Linked DNA regions of Homo sapiens: region 2 is linked to region 1. The links come from fine-mapping of genetic effects on gene expression. A gene starts in region 1. The other region holds a variant in brackets. All regions are shown on one strand. Distances are from middle to middle. Region 1 holds the start of TESK2 (testis associated actin remodelling kinase 2). Region 2 has its middle 6.7 kb from the start of PRDX1.

What was found. PIP is the estimated chance that this variant, and not a neighbour inherited with it, causes the effect.
Region 2: its variant is the best candidate, but not a certain one, in a credible set for the expression of TESK2 in whole blood (INTERVAL, PIP 0.56).

Annotation. Positions count from the first base shown.
Region 1 is chr1:45,488,065-45,493,440 of GRCh38, reverse strand. It overlaps TESK2 (testis associated actin remodelling kinase 2), which reads left to right and starts at 2,278. Exons shown (of 11, transcript NM_007170.3): 1 at 2,278-2,589. RefSeq lists enhancers at 1,990-2,284, 2,571-2,620 and a silencer at 2,121-2,340.
Region 2 is chr1:45,525,896-45,531,271 of GRCh38, reverse strand. It overlaps the pseudogene HMGB1P48. Among named protein-coding and RNA genes, the nearest start is that of PRDX1, 6.7 kb to the right of the region's middle. RefSeq lists an enhancer at 3,710-4,218. The variant C/T (reference allele first, on the strand shown) is at 3,031.

The DNA of each region.
Region 1 (5,376 bases):
TTGGGCTCAAGAGATCCTCCTACCTCAGTCTCCCAAAGCCCTTGGGATTACAGGTCTGAGCCCACACACCCAACCTCAACAGAAATATTAAATAGCAATGTGGAAAATTGTTATTTGAGCTGTCACCAGGTGGCAGCACATGATTTGTTGCCAGAAGAATGGTACCAAAAAGCCTTTGGTCAGGGGGACTGGGCTGGGGTGATCTCTCTTCTCCCTTCAGAGATTCTGTGAGCTACCAATTAATCTTCCTAAAACACTGCCCTGTTTAGTTTATGGTCCTGCTCAAGAATAGCTCTCACAGCATAAAAAACAAAAGACAAATTTGAATATTGGCATTTAAGCCCAACCCACATGCAGCCTCTTCTCTCTCCAATATCTCCTACCACACTTCTTTCTTTCTTTTTATATTTTTTTGGGACAGGGTCCTGCTCTGTTGTCCAGGCTGGAGTGCAGTGGCACCATCCACAGCTCACTGTAGCCTTGACCTCTGGGCTCAGGTGATCTTCTGGCTTTAGCCTCCCAAGTAGCTAGGACCACAGGTACATGCCACCATTTTGGGCTCATTTTTTTTTTTTTTTCTGTACAGACAGGGTCTCGCTATGTTGCCCAGGCTGGTCTCAAACTCCTGGCTTCAAGTGATCCACCTTGGCCTCCCAAAGTGCTGAGATTACAGAAGTGAATCACTGTGTCTGGCCATATTTTTTTTTTTTTTTTTTTTTTGAGACGGAGACTTGCTGTGTCGCCCAGGCTGGAGTGCAGTGGTGCGATCTTGGCTCACTGCAACTTCTGCTTCCCGGGCTCAAGCGATTCTCTTGCCTCAGCCTCCTGAGTAGCTGGGACTACAGGCACGCGCCAATACACCCAGCTAATTTTTCTATTTTTAGTAGAGACGAGGTTTCACCATGTTTGCCAGGATGGTCTCGATCTTCTGACTTCGTGATCCCCCTGCCTCGGCCTCCCAAAGTGGTGGGATTACAGGCGTGATCCACTGCTCCCGGCCCTGGCCATATTTCTTAAACTTTATGGCCACCAGGAATGCATACCACTTATACTCTTCCAGGAGGATGAAAGTCTTAAGATGTCTGAAAAGGGGTCTCTAACCCCTGGGAGTGCTAATACAGTAAGGCCCATACTGCTTGCTCTTGCCCTCCTCCTGTTCTAGTCTCTTCAGTCATGAGATTATGAGCTCCTGATGTCCAGGCACATGCAAAAAGTGAAGAAATATGTGCCTTGAACAGCTGGGCAGAATTCTTAGCTGGGAGCGGTGGCTCACGCCTGTAATCCCGGCACTTTCGTAGGCCAACGTGGGCCGATCACTTGAGTCCAGGAGTTACAGACCAGCCTGGGCAACATGGTAAACCCCGTCTCTACAAAATATACAAAAAATTAGTCAGGCATGCTGGCGTGTGCCTGTAGTCCCAGCTATCCGGGGAGGCTGAGTTGGGAGGATCATCTTAATCCAGGAGTTTGAGGCTGCAAGTGAGCCATGATCGCTCCATTGCACTCCATCATCCTGGGCGACAGAGTGAGACCCTTCTAAAAAAAAAACAACCAACAAAAACAACAAAAAATCCCAACTTATTCCCCACCAGCTTTCTTTCAAAATCTGTTTTCAAGCTAGCTGAAGTGTTACCTCCTCTAAGCTTTCACTTAACCGAATCTCATAGTCATGATTAATTGCTTCCCTAGCATTTTGTTTAGCTCTACTGATTGCTCTTACTATTTCAAGTCGGTATTATTGATATATTTTTTCCTCCTCACTATACTGAAATCCTGCAGGACGCAGCATTCTTACCGCTTTTCCTTACTCAGCTATACCTTGACCAACCCGAAAGCCGCGCCAGTCTAGTCCATTTTCTATTGGCTTTATCAATTACCAATCATTTCTGTGTTTAACATTTTTATTGGTCCATCTTGTGTTTACTGCCCCGCCCTCTAAGAGGCTCCTGGACTTGGGTTTCCCCCAGGTGTATTCCCTCCTCCTCGGTTCCGCCTTTCCCACACACTGCTTCTTCTGTTTTTACCTCGACTTCCTTCCTATTGGTTCCCTTCGTCCTCCGGAGTTGGCACCTACGGCTGTTGATTGGCTTTTCTGGACGCCCATTGTGCCCACCCTCATACCACGTGGCATTCCTAGCGCTAATTGGGCAATTCCACTACCTCGTTTATCAGGAGTTGACGGTTGACTGGCTACTCTGAGGGAGGGCTTGAGGGAGGGGCGTGGCCAGCCGAGACCCCGCCCCCAACCCCCCTGCTGGGCCGGGTAGGCGTTTCAGTCTTTCGCGGCCCGGGAGCTCAGCAGAGCTACCAGCTGCCCTGTTGGCTTCGCTGGTCGGATCGTCCTCCTGGCCCCGCCAAACAGGCGGGGGGAGCGGCCCCGACTGTGGGGCCATGGCAGTAGTCTCCTCGTTCGCCGCCGCCGCTAGCCTAGCTGAGTCGCCGGCTTCTGCGCTAGGGGCTCCCACCGCCTCCGCAGGCTAAGGAGCCGCTGCCACCAACGAGCTGTGAGGGTTACTATGCTCCCTCTTTGCCGCCGTCTCCTCCTCTTGCCCGCGCAGGCACCCCTCTGGCTGCTCAGTCCTGCCTCAGGTAACGTGAAAAGAGGACGGGGGTCACAAACCCGGGCATCCTGCCTGGCCCGCGCGCGCTGCCGCTCCACCTCCTCTGCCCCGGAGCAGAGGCGCCTGCGTCCCTCCGCACCCGACGGGACCCCTCGGCTTCCCAGAGGTCCCCCTCTCAGCGGCGGCGGACGCTCCCTTCCTGGCCGCTTTCCCCTTTCCTTCTCACTTCCCTCAGGCTCCCCGCCACGTCTGCTCCCCCTTAGAACCTGGGAACCCATTAGAAGTTACCTCGCTCGCATTAGGGATCTTTCGTTTTCTCGGAAAACTCTTGTTTCAGAGACTTCCAGCTCCCCACTGAGCGCCTCCCTGCTCGCATACCCGCTCCTGCCTCAGAGATCTGGGTTCCTTCACTTGACTTCCCTCCGATACACTCTTCCCTCGAAAACGTTCACCTCTACCCAGGAAAACAATTCCCTCCCCTCAGACCCTACTGCCTTCCCCCTCTTCTTTCCTCGCTTGTCATCGTCTCCCTTCCTTTCCCCTCTCTGCTTTTTACTCTTCGCTGTGAAGAGTGGACTAAGCCAGTGTTCAGATTTCGCTACAAGCGAAATCCAGGTTTGCGTAATTTAAAAGTCTTTAAATTGTATACCTCTGAGAAGAACTTGCTGAGGAATTTGGACTTCATGCTGCATGCATGGGGAGCCGTTGAAGGTTTTGTAAGCAGGAGCTTGGTATGATTGCATTATCTTTGGTGAAAATATAGAGGAAGGATTGAAAGTGAAGACCGTGGAGGCGGAAAGGCCAGGTAGGCAGAAAACGAGTGTGCTCATCCAGGCGGGAGGGAATGGCCCGAAATTCCAAGAGGTTTCAAAATAAAGTTGAGAAGAATAGTAGAAAGTTTCTGACTTGGCTGATGGTGTGAATCGGTAGTGTTAATTGAAATAGGGAACATAGTCTCTGGTTATACCACCCTCAACGCTCCTGATCTCATCTGAAATAGGGAGCATAAAAAAGCAATTTTGAGAGAAGGTAATAAATTTGGTTTTGAACAAGTTAAGTTTCAGGGTTTGTTTGTTAGTTTTTGTTTTTTTTGACGGAGTCTCATTCTGTCACCCAGGCTGGAGTGCAGTGGCACGATCTCAGCTCACTGCCACCTCCTCCTCCCAGGTACAAGCGATTCTCCTGCCTCAGACTACCGAGTAGCTGGGATTACAGGCATGCGCCACCACGTCCGGCTAATTTTTGTACTTTTAGTAGAGACGGGGTTTCCCCACGTTGGCCAGGCTGGTTTCGAACGTCTGACCTCAGTCAATCCGCCCACCTCGGCCTCCCACAGTGCTGGGATTACAGGCGTGAGCCACTGCTCCCAGCCGAGTTTGAGGTGTTTTGAAATATCACTGTGGGTATCTGGAAATTTGGGTCTGAAAATTGGGAGAAAGCTTGGACCTGGATACATAAATTTGGAGGGTCAAGAGAATATATGGGGGATATTTGTGTGCCTTAGTATGGAATGGTAATACTGAAAGATGAGAAGGGCTGTGGACCAGAAGGAGCATCATTGTTTGAAAGGTAATAGACACTGAAAAAGAGAGATTAAAGGAACGGGACAAGAACTAGAACATAACAGCATTATAATAGGAGCCAAAGAAAGGATTTCAAGAAGGGAGTGGGGGGCGGTGACTATCAATGTCACGTGCTTTCGAGGTCCAGCTGAATGAGAGTTAAGAAGCTTTTTTTTTTTTTTCTTTGGTGTCAGGGTCTCACTCTGTCGCCCAGGCTGGAGTGCAGTGGTGCAGTCTCGGATCCTCCCACCTCAGCCTTCTGAGTAGCTGGGATCACAGGCAGGAGCCACCACACCCAGATAATTTTTTGTATTTTTTGTAGAGACGGGATTTCTCTGCGTTGCCCAGGCTGGTCTCGAACTCCTGAGCTCAAAGCTATCTGCCTTCCCCGGCCTCCCAAAGAGCTGGGGTTACAGGGGTGAGCCATCATGCCTGGCCTGCCCTATATTTAGCAATCAGGAGGTCACTTGTTTCCTCTGAAATGCAGTTTTGGTAGGGTGGGGATGGCAAAGAAGGTAGTAGTGAGATCATGATGGATTGAGGAATAAATGAGGAGAAATGAGTAAAATTATTCTCCAGAGTTTGGTTGTGAAGGAGAGCTGGTTCTAGTGAAACTCATCTTTATTGAGAATATACTATATGCCAGGTACATAAAGATGCTTTATAGATCACAACAGCCTTGTGGTTAACATGTCAGTATCCCTCTTTTACAGTGGAGAGTACTGTGGACAAGGATTTGAGCAGGTATGTCTAGTTCTGAAACCTGTGTTCTTTCCATTATGGCACATGTGTGTTTTTCTTTTCAGTACAGGTGAAACAGTTCTGTAAGTGAGGGGAAGGTTCATCTAGGAAATATGTCAGTCAGGCATTTTGCCCTTTGACACCAAAAGGATAGTAGTGAAAATGGATAATGATGTGGTAGAAGGGAAGGAAAGTGAGGGAGTTTAACAGATGGCCTTATCGATGTGATTACTTATCTGTGGAGAAGTCAGTTTGGAGACTGAAGACACTATGGTGAGTTTCTGACTTGAGTATTATGGCCATGGGAATCTTAAATGGAAAATGAAAGAGAATAAAGATTTAACAAAAAAAATTGTTGGCCAGGTGTAGTGGCTCACTTTGGATTTTTTAATCCCAGCACTTTGGGAGGCTGAAGTGGGAGGATCGCTTGAGCCCAGGAGTTTGCGACCAGCATGGGCAACATTGTGAGACCTCGTCTCTACAGAAAATTAAAAAATTAGCTGGGTGTGGTG
Region 2 (5,376 bases), 38 kb before region 1:
AGGAGTTCGAGACCAGCCTGGCCAACATGGCAAAAACCCTGTCTCTACTAAAAATACAAAAATTAGCCAGGCATGGTGGCGCACACCTGTAATCCCAGCTACTCAGGAGGCTGAGGCAGGAGAATCACTTGAACCCGGGAGGCAGAGGTTGCAGTGAGCCAAGATCGCGCCACTGCACTTCAGCCTGCGCGATGGGAGCAAGACTCCATCTAAAAAAAAAAAAAAAAAAACTCTGAGAAGCTGACTGAAGCCTCTGGGTGCTTATGTTCCTCCCGACAAGTTTTGCACGAAAAATGCATATGATGACATTTTGCCTCTAGGTTTCTGAGGATCTCCTTTGCTCATGTCTAGTTATTTTTCCTCAGTGAGGCACAGAGTCACCCTGTGCCTGTCAGGCTCTCACTTGCCCTGGTGCTGTCTCTATGGAGCTTAACATACTGTAACAGCTGTCTACTTCTTTTTTTTTTTTTTTTTTTTGAGACAGAGCCTTGCTCTGTAGCCCAGTCTGGAGTGCAGTGGCATGATCGCCTCCCGGGTTTAAGCGATTATCCTGCCTCAGCCTCCAGAGTAGCTGGGATTACAGGTGTCCACCACCACGCCTGGCTATTTTTTTTGTATTTTTAGTAGAGACGAAGTTTCACCATGTTGGCCACGCTGGTTTAGAACTCCTGACCTCAAGTAATCTGCCTGCCTCGGCCTCCCAAAGTGCTAGGATTACAGGCGTGAGCCACTGTGCCCTGCCTTACTTGCTTTTTATCATTTTGTTTTGCTTTTTTTTTGTTGAGGCAGGGTCTTGCTCTGTTGCTCAGGCTGGAGTGCAGTGGTGCATTCATGGCTCACTGTGGCCTAAACCCCCTAGATTCAATCAATTCTCTCATCTCAGCCTCCTGGGTAGCTGGGACTACAGGCATGCGTCATCATGTTTGGCTATTTTTTGTTTGTTTGTTTAATTTTTTGTAGAGATGGGTACCCCTATGTCGCCCAGGCTGGTCTCCAACTCCTGAGCTCAAATGATCCTCTCATCTCGGCCTCCCAAAATGCTGGGATTACAACCATGAGCCACTCCACCTGGCCCTGTCTACTTGCTTTTTTTTTTTTTTTTTTTTTTTTGAGACGGAGCTCGTCTTGTTGCCCAGGCTGGAATGCAAATGGCGCGATCTTGGCTCACTGCAACCTCCACCTCCCAGGTTCAAGCCATTCTCCTGCCTCAGCCTCCCGAGTAGTTGAGATTACAGGCATGTACCATCACGTCCGGCTAATTTTGTATTTTTCGTAGACACGGGGTTTCTCCATGTTGGTCAGGCTGGTCTTGAGCTCCCAACCTCAAGTGATCCACCCGCCTCGACCTCCCAAAGTGCTGGGATTACAGGCGTGAGCCACTGTGCCCGGCCCTGTCTCCTTGTTAAATGGGAAAAATTAATCCCCTATTTGGTTAAGCTTGTTATTTGCAGTTAATCTGTTACTTTCAGTTGCATTCAATTTTAACAAATAGATATCCTTGATAACAGTGTTTCTGAAATTGGTATTTGTAGGCCTCTGTACATTCAAATATAATTTTAAAAATTGAATCCTTGTAAATTGAAGAATTCAACTGTTTTCTTTTAGTGATAATCTAAAAAAATTTAACATAAACATATTCTAAATCATCTGTATGAAAAATAAGCCCGGTAGTGGTGACTCAGCCTGTAATCCCAGTACTTTGAGAGGCCGAGATGGGTGAATCCCTTGAGACCAGGAGTTCGAAACCAGACTGGACAACATGGCGTAACCCTGTCTCTATTAAAAATACAAAAATCAGTCAGGCATGGTGGCACATACCTGTAATTCCAGCTACTTGGGAGGCTGAGGCACAAGAATCACTTGAACCCAGGAGGTGGAGGTTGCAGTGAGCCGAAACCATGCTGCTGCACTCCAGTCTGGGCAGCAGAGCAAGACTCTGTCTCAAAAAAAATAAAATAAATAAAAGAAAAATGAGTGCTGTCTTGTGATTTGGGTTCCCATTATTTTATTTTATTATTTTTTGAGACAGGGTCTCACTCTGCTCACTCTGTCACCCAGGCTGGAGTACAGTGGTGCCATCTCGGCTCACTGCAGCCTCGAGCTCTGGGACTCAAGCAATCCTCCCACCTCAGCCTCTGGACTAGTTAGGACCACAGGCACACACCACCACACTGGGCTAATTTTTTATTTTTTGTGGAGATGGTGAAGGGGTGGGTTGCCCCTCCACACCTGTGGGTGTTTCTTGTTAGGTGGAACGAGAGACTTGGAAAAGAAAAAGACACAGAGACAAAGTATAGAGAAAGAAATAAGGGGACCCAGGGGACCAGCGTTCAGCATATGGAGGATCCCGCCAGCCTCTGAGTTCCCTTAGTATTTATTGATCATTTGTGGGTGTTTCTCGGAGAGGGGGATGTGTCAGGGTCACAAGACAATTGTGGGGAGAGGGTCAGCAGACAAACACGTGAACAAAGGTCTTTGCATCATAGACAAGGTAAAGAATCAAGTGCTGTGCTTTTAGATATGCATACACATAAACATCTCAATGCTTTACAAAGCAGCATTGCTGCCCGCATGTCCCACCTCCAGCCTTAAGGAGGTTTTTCCCTATCTCAGTAGATGGAACGTACAATCGGGTTTTATACCGAGACATTCCATCGCCCAGGGACGGGCAGGAGACAGATGCCTTCCTCTTGTCTCAACTGCAAGAGGCATGCCTTCCTCTTATACTAATCCTCCTCAGCACAGACCCTTTACGGGTGTCGGGCTGGGGGACGGTCAGGTCTTTCCCTTCCCACGAGGCCATATTTCAGACTATCACATGGGGAGAAACCTTGGACAATACCTGGCTTTCCTAGGCAGAGGTCCCTGCAGCCTTCCGCAGTGTTTGTGTCCCTGGGTACTTGAGATTAGGGAGTGGTGATGACTCTTAAGGAGCATGCTGCCTTCAAGCATCTGTTTAACAAAGCACATCTTGCACAGCCCTTAATCCATTTAACCCTGAGTTTGACACAGCACATGTTCCAGAGAGCA[C/T]GGGGTTAGGGGTAAGGTCATAGATTAACAGAATCTCAAGGCAGAAGAATTTTTCTTAGTACAGAACAAAATGGAGTCTCCTATGTCTACTTCTTTCTACACAGACACAGTAACAATCTGATCTCTCTTGCTTTTCCCCCACAGATGGAGTTTCGCCATGTTGTCCAGGTTGATCTCAAATTCCTGGGCTCAAGTGATCTGCCCACCTCGGTCTCCCAAAGTGCTGGCTTTACAGGCATGCACCACCATGCCCGGCGTCCATTATTTTATTTTGCATTTGTTGTTACAATTATCTGAGAGCATTTAGTTTCATGGTTTATAGGTTTAATTTTAATGGTTTATAAGTTTATAGCAGGCTGCTATCAGGTTAGCAAGTCCTACTGTTAAAATGATTGCTGTCCTGGGACATGGGCTTTATACTTACATTGAATTGCCTTACCTTTTACATTTAGTTGGCTGTGAAGAAGAGACAATGGCTGTTGATGAGTCAGGTAACTGTCTCCCACAGCAAATTAGTGCAGTGATGTAACTACTGCTTTTTTTTTTTTTTGAGACGGAGTCTTGTTCTGTTGCCCAGGCTGGAGTGTAGTGGTGCGATCTTGGCTCATTGCAACCTCTGCTCCTGGGTTCAAGCAATTCTCCTGCCTCAGCCTCCCAAGTAGCTGGGATTACAGGGGCACACTGCCACACCCGGTTAATTTTTTTTTTTTTTTTTGTATTTTAGCAGAGACGGGGTTTCACCATGTTGCCCAGGCTGGTCTTGAACTCCTGAGCTCAGACAATCTACCTGCCTCGGCCTCCCAAAGTGCTGAGATTACAGGCATGAGCCACCACACCCGGCATTTTTTTTTTTTTTTTTGAGATGGAGTCTCGCTCTTGTCATCCAGGCTGGAGTGCAGTGGTGCCATCTTGGCTCACTGCAACCTCCGCCTCCCGGGTTCAATCACTTGTCCTGCCTCAGCCTCCCAAGTAGCTGGGACTACAGGTGCCCACCACCATGCCCAGCTGATTTTTGTGTTTTTAGTGGAGACGGGGTTTCACCATGTTGGCCAGGCTGATATCGAACTCCTGACCTCAGATGATCCTCCTGCCTTGGCCTCCCAAAATGTTGGGATTACAGGCGTGAGCCACCGCTCCCGGCCTGTTTAACATTATTTTAAACCTCAAACCTGCTTTTCTTCCAGTGTTTCCTATGTCACAGGTTAATGACATCACTCATGTCACCAAGAAACTGGATTTAATTTACTCTTTCCTTTCATCCTAAATCCAATTAATCCTAAAGCCTGAAGAAATATACCTTGTATTTCCTTCTTTCTACCCTGCTGCTAATGTCATATTACAGTTCTGAGACTTCTCTTGTCTGGATCATTGCCGTGGCCTCCCAATTGCTCTCTTTGCCTAATCTCCTAGTCACTAAATTCATTCATCACACAGCTTCCAGAGTCAACTTCCTGAAACGTAGTTCAAATAATTTAATTCTACATCTCAAAAGTCTTCAACACATTGTAACATTTATTAAGTACTTCTATGCCAGTTACTGTGCTAGACTTGTTACTACAAATATAAATAAAACAAGGGGAATAATTCCCATGCTAATGGTGAGCAAATGAAGAGAGCACAATGGAATATATCTAAAAATAGAACTAGAGGTATACATCAGACCCTGCAAGAAAGCCTCCTCCCCATGGTTCTGAAATCTTTACTGTCCTTTGGAGAGACTCTACAAATCACTTAGACTTGTTCAACAGATTTCTTCTTTTTTCAGTACTCTGTCCAGTTATTTCACTTTTATGATCTTAAGGGGATAGACTGTTAACATTTCTCTAGGCTAGGATAACTCTTTTTTTTTCCTGTTTTTTTTTCTTTGTTTGTTTAGAGACTGGTTCTTGCAGCACTGCCTAGGCTGGGCTCAAACTCCAGGGCTCAAGTGATCCTCTCACCTCAGCCTACCAAGTAGCTGGGACTATAGTCACATGCCAAATGTGCTCCACTCTCTTTTAGTTCTTTTTTCTTTTCTTTTTTTCTTTTTTCTTTTTTTTTTTTTTTGAGACAGAGTCTTGCTCTGTTGCCCAGGTTGGAGTGCAGTGGCGGGATCTCAGCTCACTAAAACCTCTGCCTCCCGGGTTCAAGTGATTCTCCTGCTGCAGCCTCCTGAGTAGCTGGGATTGCAAGTGCCTGCCACCACGCCCAGCTAATTTTTGTATTTTTAGTAGAAACAGGTTTTCACCATGTTGGTCAGGCTGGTCTGGAACTACTGACCTCATGATCTGCCCACCTTGGCCTCCCAAAGTGCTGGGATTACAGGCTTGAGCCACCATGCCCGGCTTTTGTTCTTTTTTTTTAGAC